Regions from separate parts of the Homo sapiens genome. Here region 1 is linked to region 2. Evidence: fine-mapped expression QTL. Tissue or cell type: activated CD8 T cells. Region 2 holds a variant in brackets; the other region holds the start of a gene. All regions are shown on one strand. Distances are from middle to middle.

Evidence for each region. PIP is the estimated chance that this variant, and not a neighbour inherited with it, causes the effect.
Region 1: TSG101 starts here. The variant in region 2 is fine-mapped to the expression of TSG101 in activated CD8 T cells (Schmiedel 2018, PIP 0.95).

The regions. Positions count from the first base shown.
Region 1 is chr11:18,522,299-18,530,298 of GRCh38, forward strand. TSG101 (tumor susceptibility 101) reads right to left here and starts at 4,644. Exons shown (of 10, transcript NM_006292.4): 1 at 4,477-4,644. The coding sequence starts at 4,518. It overlaps UEVLD (UEV and lactate/malate dehyrogenase domains), which reads right to left. Exons shown (of 12, transcript NM_001040697.4): 12 at 7,311-8,000. RefSeq lists an enhancer at 4,804-4,913.
Region 2 is chr11:19,192,586-19,200,849 of GRCh38, forward strand. The region is part of intron 1 of CSRP3 (cysteine and glycine rich protein 3); the gene reads right to left. CSRP3-AS1 (CSRP3 and E2F8 antisense RNA 1) reads left to right here and starts at 4,128. Exons shown (of 6, transcript NR_183675.1): 1 at 4,128-4,334. The variant C/A (reference allele first, on the strand shown) is at 4,584.

The DNA of each region.
Region 1 (8,000 bases), 670 kb before region 2:
ACATGACCAAAACTGAACTCCTCATCTTCTCCCCAAATTTACTTCTCCAGTGTCTTCCATATGTGTATACATACATATCCTTCCAGGTGCTCAGGCCAAAAACCATGACATTATCCTTGATGCCCTCTCTTTTCTTCACATCCACAGCAAATCTGTCAAAATATCCTGTTAGCTTTGCCTTCAAAATACATCCGGAATCTCCACAGCTACAGTCCTGGTCTAAGCCACCAGCACCTCTCACCTAGATTACTGCAACAGCCTCCTTACGTGTCTCTGCCTCCATCGTTAACCCCCTACAGTCTAGTCTCAGCATAGCATCTAGAGTAATATTGCTAACAGCTGAAACACAGCAACGGCTTTTCATCATACTCCAAGTAAATGCCAAGGTCCTTACAATGGCCTGCAAGGCCCTCCAAACCTCCCATACCATTGATGCTGTCTAGACCCATACCACCACTTTCCTCCCTTGCTCACTCCAGTCTAGCCACCATACCCTCCTTTGTTGTTCCTCTATCATGCATGACAAACTTCTGTCTATGAGTCTTTGCATTTGTTTTTCCTTCCTTCTGAAATGTTCTTACCCCAGATTGTTCCAGGTTTGTTTTTTTCTTGACAGGATCTTGCTCTGTCACCCAAGCTGGAGTACAGTGGTGTGATCACAGCTCACTGCAACCTCAAACTCCTGGGCTCAAGTGATCCTCCCATCTCAGCCTCCCAACCAGCTGGGATTAGAGGTATGCACCACGCCTGGCTAATTTTTTTATATTTTTAGTAGAGAAGAGACAAGGTCATGCTATGTTGCCCAGGCTGGTCTGGAACTCCTGGCCTCAATGTGATCCTCTAGCTTCCGCCTCCCAAAATGTTTGGATTTCAGGTGTAAGCCCCATGTCAAGCACACAGTTTCTTTACCTCTCTCAGGTGAGCTCAAGTAGATTTTTTCAGAAAGACCTCTCTTTACTATCAGATATAAAACGGTGACTCATCCCATTTCCACACCCTAGCATTCCCCATTTCTTCCCTGCTTTATTTTCTCTAAAGCACTTATCACTTTCCAACGTACTTCTTGATGTATTTATTGAGTTGTTTATTGCCTTCTATAAGAATTTAAATTCCAGAAGCACAGTTTCTTTGTCTGATTGTTCACTGTTGCATCCCTAGAACCTAAAACAGTGAGGGACATATCAATCTTTATTTTATTATTTTTATTTATTTATTTGTTTTTGAGATGGATTCTCGCTTTGTCACCCAGGCTGGAGTGCAGTGGCGTGATCTCAGCTCACTGCAACCTCTGCCTCCCAGGTTCAGGCAATTCTCCTTTCTCAGCTTCCCGAGTAGCTGGGATTACAGGCGTGCGCCACCATGTCTGGCTAATTTTGTATTTTTAGTAGAGATGGGGTTTCACCATCTTGGCCAGTCTGGTCCAAAACTCCTGACCTCAAGTGATCCGCCCACCTCAGCCTCCCAAAGTGCTGAGATTACAGGCATGAGCCATTGCACCTGGCCAATTTTGTTATAGTTTAAAATGTTTATTTTTTACTTTTTGAGACAGGTTCTCTGTCATAGCTCACTGTAACCTTGAACTCCTGGGCTTAAGTGATCCTCCTGCTTCTGCTTCTCAAGTAGCTAGGACTACAGGTGCAAGCCACGAAGTCTGGCTGATTTTTAAATTTTCTGTAGAGACAGAGTCTAGCTATGTTGCCCAGGCTGATCCTGAACTCCTGGCCTCAAGTGGATTCTCCCATCTCTACCTCCCAAAGTATTGGGATTACAGGCATGAGCCACCACACCAGGCCCACAGTTTTCTTCTACTCATTTAGCAGTGACTGTGCCTCTAGAAATGCTGTAGATAAACTATGTAAAAATATAAGTGGCTGTATGTATGAAACATCTAAAGTGGGAAGTTGTTTCTGTAAAAGAAGAAGGACTAATCTGGTATAAATATATCTGTTAATTGCAAAAATAACAGAGAAAGGTGTTGAAAGTTATGTTGAAGTTGGGAGCTAAGATAATGCTCAAGGGAAAAAAAGACCTTTTATAATAAACACATAAAACATAAGGCAGGTGGCCAGAGTACCATGATGTGTGTGGAGAGCCTACAATCAGATAAAGAGAAAACAATAATGACCTTCACCCTAGCTATGTGTTCAGGGTCCTGGCTAACAATTCTTACATCAGACCACACCAGCTGAAAGGAAAACATTTGAAGCCCTTCTTTAGGAGGAAGGAGCCCCACAACTGCTTCTATTACTTTACTTCCTATTCTTACCTGTCTAAAATTCATAGGTTGGACAGTACTAATGCTGATGCTCAGAATCGTCATAATCACATACAGGAGTCTCAATTTTCCAGATATTGAGTCAAGGACCAAAAGGCAGGTAGGATGCCCTCTCCCACCTCTTCCCTACCTCTGTTTTTGTTTCTAAAGTAATCACAGGTTGGGTGGAGGGGAAGGCAGGTAGAGGTATAAAATATCTTCTGAACATGCCTTGCCTTTGTCTTTGATGGCAGGTTTCTCTAGGGAAGCTTAGGAAACTTAATTAGGGTATAAAAAATAAGCTAATATTTGAATATTCTTGCTCTTTATATGAATATACATACATTAAGGAATAAATCTTTTTTTTTTTTTTTTTGAGATGGAGTCTTGCTCAGCCACCCAGGCTGGAGTGCAGTGGCCTGATCTCGACTCACTGCAACCACCGTCTCCCAGGTTCAAGCGATTCTCCCATCTCAGCCTCCCGAGTAGGCTGGGATTACAGGCACCCGCCATCATGCCCGGCTAATTTTTGTATTTTAGGAGACGGGGTTTCACCATGTTGATCAGGCTGGTCTTGAACTCGTGACCTCAGGTGATCCACCCGCCTTGGCCTCCCAAAGTGCTAGGATTACAGGCGTAAGCCACTGCGCCCAGCCCAAGGACTAAATCTTAATGACTATGCTATCAATTTAAAGATCAAAAATGTCATGGAGGCCAGGTGTGGTGGCTCACGCCTGTATTCCCATCATTTTGGGAAGCCAAAGCGGTGGATCACTGAGGTCTGGAGTTTAAGACCAGCCTGGCCAACATGGTGAAATCCCGTCTCTACTAAAAATACAACAATCAGCTGTGTGAAGTGGTGGGCACCTGTAATCCCCAGCTACTTGGGAGGCTAAGGCAGGAGAATCGCTTGAACCTGGGAGGCGGAGATTGCAGTGAGCCAAGATCGTGCCACTGCACTCCAGCCTGGGTGACAGAGCAAGACTCTAAAAAAAAAAAAAAAAAAAAAAGAGTCATGGAACAGATACTCTTCAGTTACATACTATGTAAAACAATATACCGTTTTTTTCAAAAAGTGATATATAAAAGTTACAACATGGATCTTTACCTGGGTCACAATCTTCTATGGCTTCCCATATGTCTTCTATAACTAAGGATAACAAGTTTATCAAAACAAAACCAAGAAGCCTAAAATATACGATTACACAACCAATATATGCTTTATTTTGAAAGCTGTCATTTTCTCCTTAGAGATTATTTGGTCTTCAATCAAGAACTATGGGGGCGATTTAACTGGAAAAAGTCTGTTTTTAAAAAAGTTTTACACATAATAGTGTGTTTTATTAAAAATTGAAACCGCTTAAACCGCTGATTGCTACCATTCTTGCTTTGACAAAACTATCCCAAGCTAACACGTTGAACTGGTCAAGACTCAACTCTCAATCATTTTACATAGTTTTGGAAAATTACAACAAAACATAACAAAAGCCATTCCACTCTGGTGTGAGGTGCCACGTTTGAAGTAATTATATAAATAAATCATGGCTTTAAAATACAAAATGCTTAACTGCTTTTTTAAAAATTGAAAAAAAAAACACTAGTCTTGAGCCGTGAAGATCATAAATTAAGCTCAAAGCAAATAAATACGCGTTATAAGAAGCATACACTTAAAAGTAGTTACTCTTAGAAAATCCCTGAAATGGTAATGGTATGTATTTCACCTGGGGCAGTAAGGGACTGGTATTTTCGCTTCTTTTCTGGAGAATACAAAACTGAAAAGGCCACACTCTCTGCGGGTCGGCAAAAGAAAGGCTAAGACTGGAGGATCCCTAGATTGGGACAGGAGTAGAGGATTGCCTCAGATCTACAACTAAGTATGATCCCTTGTTTGTGTTTATAAAAACAAACGAAAAACTACACTGCCCCACAGACAGCTCCAAACTCAGTGGAAGAGAGGAGGGCGGGTGGGCGGCAGGTGTCAGGTAGCCTCCGCTCCACGCCTTTGTTGACTGTCGCCGTCCCCCACCCTCCCAGCTCCCGTACGGGGATTCCCGCACCAGGCGACAGGCGCCTCGGGGCGGGGTTCTGAGGAGGTCGCTAAGGACTGCACCGGGGCTTCCGGCCCGTCTGGGAAGCTTGCTTGGCTGGGCCGGGACGGACTCGACAGGGCGCGGAAGGGAGCGGTGGGCGCGCCCTGGGAGGCGAGCGCGTCGCAGCCTCACCTTGGACACCATTTTCTTGAGCTGGCTCTCCGACACCGCCATGACGGCCGCCTGGCGACTCCCTTCCCCGCAGGCAGAGGGTCAGCCGCTGCTGGGCTGCCCCAGACCGTCCCACACAATCGCACACCCCCAACCCGGCCTCAAACAACAGGAAGTCGGCACCACTACACCACTTCCGCTTCCACTACGTCACTTCCGGGCCGCCGTCCTGCGGGCAAGGGTGGACACCGTGTGGGATTGAGAGGGGCCTGGTGGGGTGGGTTCCAACCAACCCGCCCCTCGAGTGCCGGAATCAGCAGGACGAATCGGGTCCCAAAGATGTGGGCAAGACTGTTCCGAGGGTCGAAACTCTGGTTCAGGATAAGATTAGCAGGTATTTCACAGAGTCGACTTAAGGAAGCTAGTGCCGGAGAGGGAAGAAGTACGAAGGGCTTGCCAGTGAGCCTTAATGACTGATTGATCAAGTGGGAGGGCACTGCACTGGCGGTCAGAGAACTGTTCTGTCACTGACTTGCTCTTGTGATAATGGTAGGCTAGTGCATTTCTAGCTCAGGCGCAAATTTCTCCCGACTCTAAAGTCATACACTTGCCTTAGATGATGCCCAGTGGTCCTCTAATTAATGATTTTTTTTAAGCTTAAAGACCTTCATACTATACGTTGGCAAGGGTAAAGTGTAGAGCCTTTGTTTCACAAGAAGCCAGATAGTAATTTCTTCTCCAGGAAATCATTCCGTAAGTCAGAATTTCTCCTCTGTACCCACCCATAAATGATAATACAGGCCGTATTTTACCTGGTGCTGTATTTGTGTACCTGTCCGCTGTCAAAATCCAAGCCCTTGAAGGCAGGCTTCCTTCAGATCTTCATTGCCTTGCACAATGCAAGGGTAGGTACTTCCATCTTAATTGAATTTTTACTTCCCATAAAAATTCTTCATGGTGACTTACATTAGTCATCATTACACATCACCGTCAGTTTTGTAAGCACAGTGTCATTCAAGGTATTGTAAAATTTTGAGTTTGATGATGTGTGACAGTTTCAATTATTTTAGTACAGCCCTAATGAGAACAAGGCCGTAGTATTGATTCCCTTCAAAGTTGGCGTCTAAGTGAAGGTCACATTCACAAGGAGGGCCTAACTGAAAGCATGTGGAAGCATCATTATAAACTGTTGCTAACACGCACAAATAAAGGCTATTAATAGGTATTGTTTTTCTTTTTCTTTTTCTTTTTTTTTTTTTTTTGAGTCACTCTCACTCCATCGCCCAGGCTGGAGTGCAGTAGCACCATCTCGGCTCACTGCAACCTCCGCCTCTGTTTTTCAGCTCCTTAGTTAAGCATACAGCTCCAGTCAAACCAAACTAGAGGTCTGTCTGTCCTTCCATTTTACTTGCTGTTTTATGTCTTTTAAAAGCAAGAAGGTTTTCAAACTGTTCTTAAAGCCACGGCTTAACCAGGAGTCCCTTTAATTAGAGCAACTGTACCTTTGTGAGTTGGAGGAATGCCAGGTAATATATATTATTTATATATTTTATAAATGCAACATTTATAAATATTAAAATAAATTTTACATATATATATATATATATATATATATATATATATATTTTTTTTTTTTTTTTTTTTTTTTTTTTTTGAGACAGAGTTTTGCTCTTGCTTCCCAGGCTGGAGTGCGATAGTGTGATCTTGGCTCACTGCAACCTCTGCCTCCCGGGTTCAAGCGATTCTCCTGCCTAAGCCTCCCGAGTAGCTGGGATTACAGGTGCCCACCACCACACCCAGCTAATTTTTTGTATTTTTAGTAGAGACAGGATTTCACTATGTTGGCCAGGCTGGTCTGGAACTCTTGACCTCAGGTGATCCACCCGCCTCAGCCTGCCAGAATGTTGGGATTACAGGCGTAAGCCACTGCGCCCAGCCCATTTATATATTTTTGTTGCCCAGGTCATGGTGCAGTGATGTGAACATGGCCCACTGCAGCCTCGACCTCCCTGGCTCAAGTGATCCTCCTGCCTCAGCCTCCCATGTATATTGGGACCACATGCGTGTGCCACCATGCCCAGCTAATTTTTAATTTCTTTGTAAAGATGAGGTCTTACTTTGTTGCCCAGGCTGGCCTCAGAACTCCTGGGCTCAGGTGATCCTCCCACCTTAGCCTCCCAAAGTGCTGGGATTACAGGTGTGAGTCACTGTGCCCAGCAATATATTGTTTAAAAAAGCTTTCTTGCTGCATGTTTACTATCAGTCTTTTGCAATCTTTTAGGGTCAACACTATACCTCAATATAAAGTGTTAACTTCTTATCTATTTCATTGGAACCATGGAGGATTGAATGTGTGTGGGGAAAATGTCTTTGTGGTTTTAGAAATATGCAAAATCAGTTAATTTTTTAATGTGAAGGTAATAGTAGTTGAAATGCTTTTGAAAGTTGCTTGCCATTTCAACACTAAAGATGAGTTTTTTTCCACTCATTAGGCATTTTGATTTCTATCCTCACGTATATTAGTGGAGAATTTTAAATCCTCCGATTATCACAGATGAAAACACAAATAAGCTGATGGTGCACCTGCAGTCCCAGCTACTCCATTGGCTGAGGCAGGAGGATTACTTGAGCCCAAAAGTTTGAGTCCAGCCTGGGCAATATAGTGAGAACCTGGCTCAAAAACAAAAAGATTTAAAAAGTTTTCTTGCTAAAAATAATTTTTAAAAGTTTGAAAATGATAAAATCTAGTCTCTTCATTTTACACAAAATAACTAAATATCCTGGGTACTGTGTGAATTATATGAAAAAAATTCCTTAATCTGAATGTTTCACTTAATAAATGAAGCATCTCCTGGTGATTTTAAAATCAGTTTATTTTACTCATTATTCTTAATATTTAAGGAAAACAATGTAAAATGGGAAAAAATGTATCTTCTGCTACATCAAAAAAGCATTTTAATCCAAACCCCACTAAAAATTATAACAAGCTCTGCATGATTTCATAAAAATGAAAACATGAAAGTTAACAAGCATTGAAAATGCCAAATTATCACAAAATCATAGGGAGGTGGTGGTGGTGATATTGCTTCTTGACTTACACTGGGATTTACAACATGATTACTAATACACTTAACACTCAAGGAAATATCTGATACAGAGAATTACTTCTACATTGTGGCCTTCCAGAGGGCAAAGACTATTATTCATCTTCGAATAGTCAAATTCTAACACAGTATTTGGAGTAACAGTAGGTGTTAAATAAACATTTGTTGTATTGACATGTTCCTTTTATAATTAATGTAATGATTTCTTGGTAATTTATTATACAATATTTTCTGGTTAGATTATTGTTCAAAAGCATATTACATATTATCTAACTTTAATTAGATATCAAATATTAGAAAAGGCTAGTTTTAAAAACACAAGAAATAGTTCTTTCAGTTTTACTTTCCTATTTCATAAAAAAGGACAGTAAGAATACATTGTTAGAGTAACATGAACTAATTCACGTGCATATTGAAATTAGATAGAACTAAATGCTTTTC
Region 2 (8,264 bases):
GTTTCATTTATTCATTCATTTAGCAAACAGCTACTGTGTGCTAGTCATTAAATAAGCTCAGACACTTAGATGGCTTTGGGTAATCACTTTACCACTTGGGAACTCAGTTTCTTCTCCTGTTAAATTTCAGTAACATCTATTCCTATGTATCTCACAGGGCTCCCGGAAGGAATGAATAGGCTAATTTCATGTACATAAAAGTATATACAAAGATCGTTTTTTTTTTCATCTCAAGTTTAAAAAATTATCCCATCAGAACTGGGAATCATCTGTGAAGATGGTATTTTCTTCTTGTCTAGCTAAGAGCTTCTCAAATCACCTTAGACCTTGCTAAATGCAGATTCTGGTTTGGTAGATCTGGGGAGAGGCAGGAAATTCTGCATTTCTAACAGACTCCAGGCAATATTGATGCTGCTGGCAGTGGACTACATTTTGGGTAGCAAAATCTTAGCTTATCTTGCTGATAGAAAAGCATATTAATAATATATAAAATCTCCTATTCCAAGTTATTCCTCATATCCATACATTCCTTTTTAAGAATATAATCACCTAGGCTATAAGATATATTGGCACTACACTAGGTCAGTAGTTGGAAACTTGCTTTCTGCTTTCAGGGCTACCCTCTACCTGCTGTTCATATCAGGATGAACTACATAGCTTAACTTTATACCTGTTTTCCCACCTATACAGTTATTCTTTTCCCTGCTGCTTTAGTGTCCTTTAGAAAATCAAACGACATGATGTGCAGGAAGGTCCCACAGAGTTCACAGTGCTCAACAGGAGCCAGACCATGGTGCTGACATGTCCTCCTGCACCATTGGAGACATTCAGCTACAAGGAGCTGCTAATAGCCACAGCCCCAGGACTGTCATTGTCTCCTCACCACAGGATTACATTTAAGAGATATTAACCAAAGAAAATTATTTAAAAAAATAATTGTCCTCTGTATTTTTAGTAGAGACGGGGTTTCACCATGTTGGCCAGGCTGGTCTCAAACTCCTGACCTCAAGTGATCTGCCCGCCTTGGCCTTCCAAAGTGCTGGAATTACAGGCTTGAGCCACCGTGCCCGGCCTAAACAAAAATTAGCCAGGTGTGGTGGTGGGCACCTGTAATCCCAGCTGCTTGAGAGGCTGAGGAAAGAGAATCACTTGAACCCAGGAGGCGGAGGTTGCAGGGAACCAAGATTGTACCACTGCACTCCAGCCTGGGCAACAGAGCGAGACTCCGTCTCAAAAAATAAATAAATAAATAAAATAGTAATAATAATTGTCCTCATCTGCATATGTTTTTAGTATGAATCCAAGTTTTCAGTTTCCTCAAAGCAGAACTAAAATAAGCCATTGATGTTAAATGAAACTTCTGAAATTCAGCTGCCCAGGGGAGCTGCATTTTCACTGGGATCCTCTGGTTTCTAAGAAGCCTAGTGTGTCATGACATGGAGCACTATCCAGCCATTCTGAGTGGCTGCTTGTGACCTTCACTTTCCCTTCTGGGAAGCCAGTCACCTTCTTATAATAGTTGGCGATTAACACTAAGCCCTCCTGGGTCAACTGGTCCGGATTGTATCTCACAGTCTCATAACAAAGGCAGTTTTTTGCTAAGAAACAGAAAGTAAATAGCAAACAGACCACTGAACCTGATACTAGGTCTAGAAGGAATGTTTCTATCTAAATATTCCCCCAAAGAGCTTTTCCTGCTTAGAAAAACTGTGAGGTTAGCCAGGAACATCCTATCCTTCCTCTCACAGAAGTAGGATCTTCTGCTAATTCAGTAAAATTTTAGAAAAGAACTTTAAAAAAGGAAACATTGGGCTGGGCATGGTGGCTCACACTTACAATCCCAGGACTTTGGGAGGCCAAGGCAGGAGGATCACTAGCCCAGGAGTTTGAGACCAGCCTGGGCAACATAGTGAGGCCCCTGTCTCTACCCCACCCCCCAAAAAATTACCCTGGTGTGGTGGCATGCTCCTGTAGTCAGTCCTAGCTACTCAGCAGGTTGAGGCAGGAGAATCACTTGAACTCAGGAGTTCTAGGCTTCAATGAGCTATGATCACACCACTCTACTTCAGCCTAAGTGACAGAGTGAGGCCCTGCCTCTAAAATAAATAAATAAGAATTTCTTAAAAAATGGAAGCATGTGGTTTTTCTATTTCTGTAGTTCGGGTTGTTTAGGAAACTAGAAAGAGTAATGGATTTTGAGTTGAAAGACTTAGAATTAAAACTCACATTCATTCGTTCATTCATTCATTCACCCTGCATTTACTACCTGCCTATCATGTGTCAAGTACTGCACTAAGTACTCAGTGACAAAAGGGGGAAAACTTATAAAAATGAGTAGTTTGTGACCCCTGGCATTGAGAAGCCCATGTTGTAGTGAGAAAAATAGACAAGATTCAGAATGCTCTGTACCAGAGAAGAGTCTTGTGAGACATGCTACAGAAACTCAAATGACGGACTGGCTCCCCACATTTAGTCTGGGGATAAAGGCAGTGAACTGTTGGAGGGTCACAGAAGAGATCACATTCAAATGGGGGTTTGAAGGGTGAATAGGAGTTCACCAGATACAGAAAAGTGGGAAGGAATAATGCTAATGAAGTCATGCAGAGAAAAGAGCAAGCAGAAAGGCGTAGAGGCCTAAATAGCCTCTAAAATAGCCCAAATTTGTTTATTTTGGACTCCATTTAAACTACAGACTTTCAGGGCTGGAATAGATTTTTAAGATTGCTGGACCCTCTCATTTATAACCAAGGTGTATTTAAAAGTAAGCATTTAGGGATATTTTTCTTAGCCAACTTCTTTTTATACAATCCATTCTTCTCTCATTAAAGATGTTACATTTTCTAGAAAAGAATAGACTCACATAATTTTGCTCATGTTCATTTTGATCCTGAGTTTCAGCATGATACAAAATAGAGGAGAAATATAATAAATTTCCTCCAGGAACATGGCAGCGACACTTGTAAAATTAATGATATAGAAATTTTCAATGAAAACAACCTTAGGTCAAATTTCTCATTTCAGATTTGCAGTGGAGATTTCATTGGCATGTCTTGCAAGTTAATAGGAGACAGAGATACCTCTTGGGGGATAAAAATACATATATATCTGTGTGTGTGTGTGTGTGTGTGGATTCATTGCCTAGGCATACTTTTCAAAATGAGAATAGGATTACAGATAATACCTCCTTCACAAACTAATGTATCCTAGCACTGGTTGTTTTTAAGCGATCATAAATATCTGACATATATCATCAGGACTTGAAATTTAAAATATAAATCTGTAAGTACTCTATTAATGATGCTCAGTTCCATTTCTGAAGATGGGAATGTAACCATGGAGGCTAAACAGAAGATGTCTCACAGGCCAAAAGGTAGAGGATATTTTAAAGCATCCTGAATCCAGGCCAGGCATGGTGGCTCACGCCTGTAATCCCAGGACTGAGGCCGAGGCGAATGGATCATGAGGTCAAGAGATCAAGAACATCCTGGCCAGCATGGTGAAACCCCATCTCTACTAAAAATACAAAAATCAGCTGGGCGTGGTGGCATGCACCTGTAGTCCCAGCTACTCAGGAGACTGAGGCAGGAGAATCACTTGAACCCAGGAGGTGGAAGTTGCAGTGAGCTGAGATTGCGCCACTGCACTCCAGCCTGGCGACAGAGTGAGACTCCATCTGAAAAAATAAGTAAATAAATAAATAAAAAGGCATTCGGAATCCAGAGACATGGATTCTAATCTCGACCTTGAACTCGGGTAAAAAATGTTGATAATAGTATCTCCTGGGCAGGACCATTGTGAAGGTCATGGAAATATGATGGAATTTAAAGCAGTATTGAGAAATTATTTTTTCCCACTTCACTTTAGGTTACTCAAATGGCACCAATGTGCTAATTAAGGAGCTATGATTTGAAATCCCAGTTAGGTCCTGGCTTATGAACATAACCTTTTCAGCTTCCCGCATTGCTTTGGAATTCTTGTGTCCCAACACTCCCCTAGACACTCCCAGAATGTGAGCTTACCCTGGCAAGGTACCAAGGGATGGGCCATTTGTTTATCAGCGTTGCCTGGTACTGGCAAGGGTCATTGAAGGTGGGATACAATTATAGGCTTGCCCGTCACTCGGCCCTGTTTGTAACCTGGGTCACAATCTCCATCATACCACCTGGCACGACTCTCTGGGCCAGTCCCTGAGATGACTATGTTGTCAAAGACAAATCGTGGGTCAAGATTGAAATGGGGGACAGTCTGGAATTTACGAGGATGAGATAGAATGGACAGCCCTGTGACATCAACTTGGAAGAGGTTGGACTCCAGATTTGGATACTCAGATCCCGGTGAGAGACTACCTTGTGCCCACTTTTAAACTAAGATGTAACTAATACCATAGAAGAGATTATACTAGGAATGTGCTTCAGTGGGGCAGTGGGAAAAACACTGGATCAGGTGCCAGAGGCTGGAGTTCTAGTTCCATTTTGCCTCTTCGAAGCTGTGTGATCTGGGAAAACCGTTCAATCTCTCTGAACTTCAGTGTCTTCACTAGAATGAGGGCAATAATCCTTTTGATTTCACTATTGCTGAGAGGA[C/A]CCTATTAGTTCAAGTACTGTCATATCATTCTGTAAATTGTAGAGTAATATAAAATGTGAGAACCAATTAGGTTCTCCCACAATTTTAAGTTGTTATTCATCAATCTGAATTTTCAAAAGAATAACTAAACTGTGTATTTTGGGCACATTCTTCCTAATCCAACTATTTCTCCCTCCCTCCCTCCCTCCCTCCCTCCCTCCCTCCCTCCCTCCCTCCCTCCCTTCCTTCCTTCCTTCCTTCCTTCCTTCCTTCCTTCCTTCCCTCCTTCTTTCCATCCTTTTTCCTTTCCTTCCCTCCCTTCCTCTCTCCATCTCTTTCTCTCCCTCTTTTCCTCTTTCTTTCTTTCTTTCTTTCTTTCTTTCTTTCTTTCTTTCTTTCTTTCTTTCTTTCTTTCTTTCTTTCTTTCTTCTTTCACTACCAACTATAAAGCTGAGCAATGATGAGTTAGGGCAAAAGTGGTGGGTACATAAAATGAGCACCCAGGAGGGAACTTTAGGCCATGACTTTGGGCAGAGACCTCAAGCCACAGTGCCACAATGCCACCGTTTTCAGCTCAGTGCTAGCTCAGTTGGTCATCCTACTAGATGCCTGATTTCCTGCAGTGAGTTCAATTGTCTACACTGGCTGAAGCAAAGATTTTGGATCATAGGAACATATATATATATATATATGGAATCTAAGCGATAGTAATAGTCATTTCTAACTTTATTATTGAAGTTAACATGCCTGGAGCACTGCCCTTGGGTATCGTTTAATCTTCACAACAACCCTTCAAGGTAGGTGCTATTATAACATTTACTTTACAGATGAGGAAATGGAGGCTTTGGGAAATTACATTAGTCCAAGTTCATGGGACTGATATGTGTCACATGAATAGATTGGAACTTACGTTTCTCTGACTCCAAAGCTTTACATATATTATTTTATGTCAGTTGCTTTACATATATTATTTTTTAATACTTACAACAGCTGCCCAGAGCAAATTTTATTTCCATTTTTATGGATAAGAGAACTGAAGAGCTTAAGTAGCTTTTCCAAGGTCACACAGCTAGTAATTGGAAGAGCTGCCATTTAACCCCCCGTTAAGCTGGTTCTGTATCTCATGCTCCTGTTTATAACACTGGAGAGAGGACAAGGGTCAGCACCTCCATCACCCAGACTTCCCAGTTGATGGGAATTGAGACGTGACCAATCCATTGTCTCTCCATGGGACACAGAGGGTATTCAAGGGTGGGACTAACAGGGAAACTGAATTCATTCACTGAAATCAATGACTTTCTGAGTTACGGCTGTTCAACATGGAAAGGGCTTCCTTGGAACTGGAGATTTCTTCTGCACTATTGATTTTCAGCTGAGGTGGGGACGGATGTCCAAGTGGCTGCTATACAGTGAAGTCCCTTCAAGGGTCCTTTAAGCCCTGAGACAGATTTAAGGATCTGAAAAGTGATTGAAACCTCACTTTGCAGAAAAGCTGCCCAATGGGGTGCCCTCTCAAACCCTCTCCTTTATTCACTCTTAATTTGGGTAAGAAAGATGACATAGCCACAGTGAAAACCATGGGCTTTGGAAGAACCAAGCTTAAGTTCAGAAACACTAACTGTTGAACACTGGGCAAGTTGCTCAAATTCTCTGACCCAGTGTCCTCAATGCATGTCCTCATGTAAAGACAATATGAGAAGGCTTGTCTGGGAAGGTTGTTTTCAGGTTAAAGAAGATAATAATAGCTAAGACACCATATAGAATTACTTAATACATAGCAGGAATTGAATAATTGTAGTTACTTGCATCATGACTATTATTGTTGTTATTACATTATCTCCAGTTTTCAAGTCTGTTCTTTTAGAACAAACAACTCACTCCCTGCTTGTTTTCCATGGCCCTTCTGGTTCAGACTGTGAATCAGCTTTGTTTTTCAGCCTTTGGAGTGTGCGGTGCCCCAGGACAGGTGTGCCCAGGTCGGGGTGAGAGTCGGTCCCCTTGCGTTGTTGGATTGGGTTGGAGGCAGCATGCCTAGCCAGGGGCCCTGTAGTCTGGGGAGCTCATGCCCTTCAGTTCTCGGTGTAGGACATTCAAGGTCAGTGGCTGCTTCCTCCTGAGCTTCTGAACCCAGATATATGACGTCCTCCGGCCAGAGGCCCTTTCACAGAGCCCAGGAAGAACAGGTTGCTCATTGCCAGCATGGAAATAAACCTGAGTGTTGGCTCTCAGCCCCTTTTAAACTCAGACATGGTAGACATACATTAAATGAAGGCTGTAGAACATGGGCATCTTACACCTTTTGTGAAATTATATCTGAAGCGTGGCCAGCTTTTACTTCCCAAAACTCACTCTTTGTTCTATTTTGACCTCTACAATTTATTTCTAAAGACCACATCATATCCCAGTTTACCTCCTGGCTCTGCCGCTTTCTCAGCCATGTGATGCTGGGCAATTCCTAAGCTTTCTAGAACTTTAGTTTCTTCCTCTGAAAAATGAGTTTTGCATAACTTTTTGTGACCCTTAAATAAGCTAGTACTCGTTCCATGCCTGCCTAGGCCATAAACGACCATCAAATCATGATCAACCCTTTCCCACAGTAAAGCTCAGAAAAGGCTCCATCCTCAATGCCCTTTAAGACCATTACTGTCTCCCTTCCTGCCATTCTTCACTGGGATGAATAACTGCAGTTTTTCACATTTGCAGGCATCACATTTCTCTTTGTGCATGAAGCCCAACCCTCTATACAGTATTTATTCACAGATATCTGAACAGCACACTTGTAACTGGAAATCTGTCTGCCTCAAGACTTGTATTTCCTGTGTGTTATATTCCTAGCCCTGGGTCTTTCCTCTTGTAAAACAAATTAATTATCTTCTAACTCCTGGTCAGCTTCTTACCCACTCTGACCTCTGGACTTTTATCAGCACGCTTGTACTTAGCAGGAAACCCCCCCAAAACCCACTGGGTTTGGCTGTATGCCTTTTCTCAACGTTCTCACATATTTGTACGGTTATATTAAACTTTACAAAAGTACTTTCCTATACTTTATCTCATTCAATTCTCACAAGTCCCTTTGATAGAGGTAGGCTACCCTTAGTTTTATTGTTCAGAAAATGGAAACTCAGATAAGTTAAGTGATATTCAGAGCTATAATTTGAACGGGCTCTATAACTGATTATCTTTATTTTCTTCTTGAATATCCCAGGATTTCTGAGTTTCTATTCTATCAAGATTCTGTCTCCACTTCCTCCAAGGGAATTTTGGCTATTTGCTGGCTGAATGCTGCTGCAGCTCCCTCTTCCTTCATTCCTCTCTTCCTCCCTTCCTCCCTCCCTCCTTCTCTCTTTCCTTCCCCCCTTCTCTCCTTCGAAGGAGGAGGCCCCTTGCCCTGTGTCTCCTGTTTCTGATGGATGACACGTGTGTCTGGGCTGCAGAGCACCTGTCTGCCTGAACCCCAGGGAGGACACAAAGCCCTGGGGCTCAGCTACACCTCCTGCCCAATAGCCTGGGCTCATTGCCACTGACCACAAACGACTGAGTTGTTCAGAAAGGGAACAAAGCCAAGTCATAAGACTCCCTCACATTTTCTGGATCATAAAGCAGTTCTACATGCATTGTGATGAATTGTATGTACCCAGCATTGAGATTTAATCCCAGATGTAAACTGAGGACACAGGCCATCCCCAATTTCCCACTCTTCG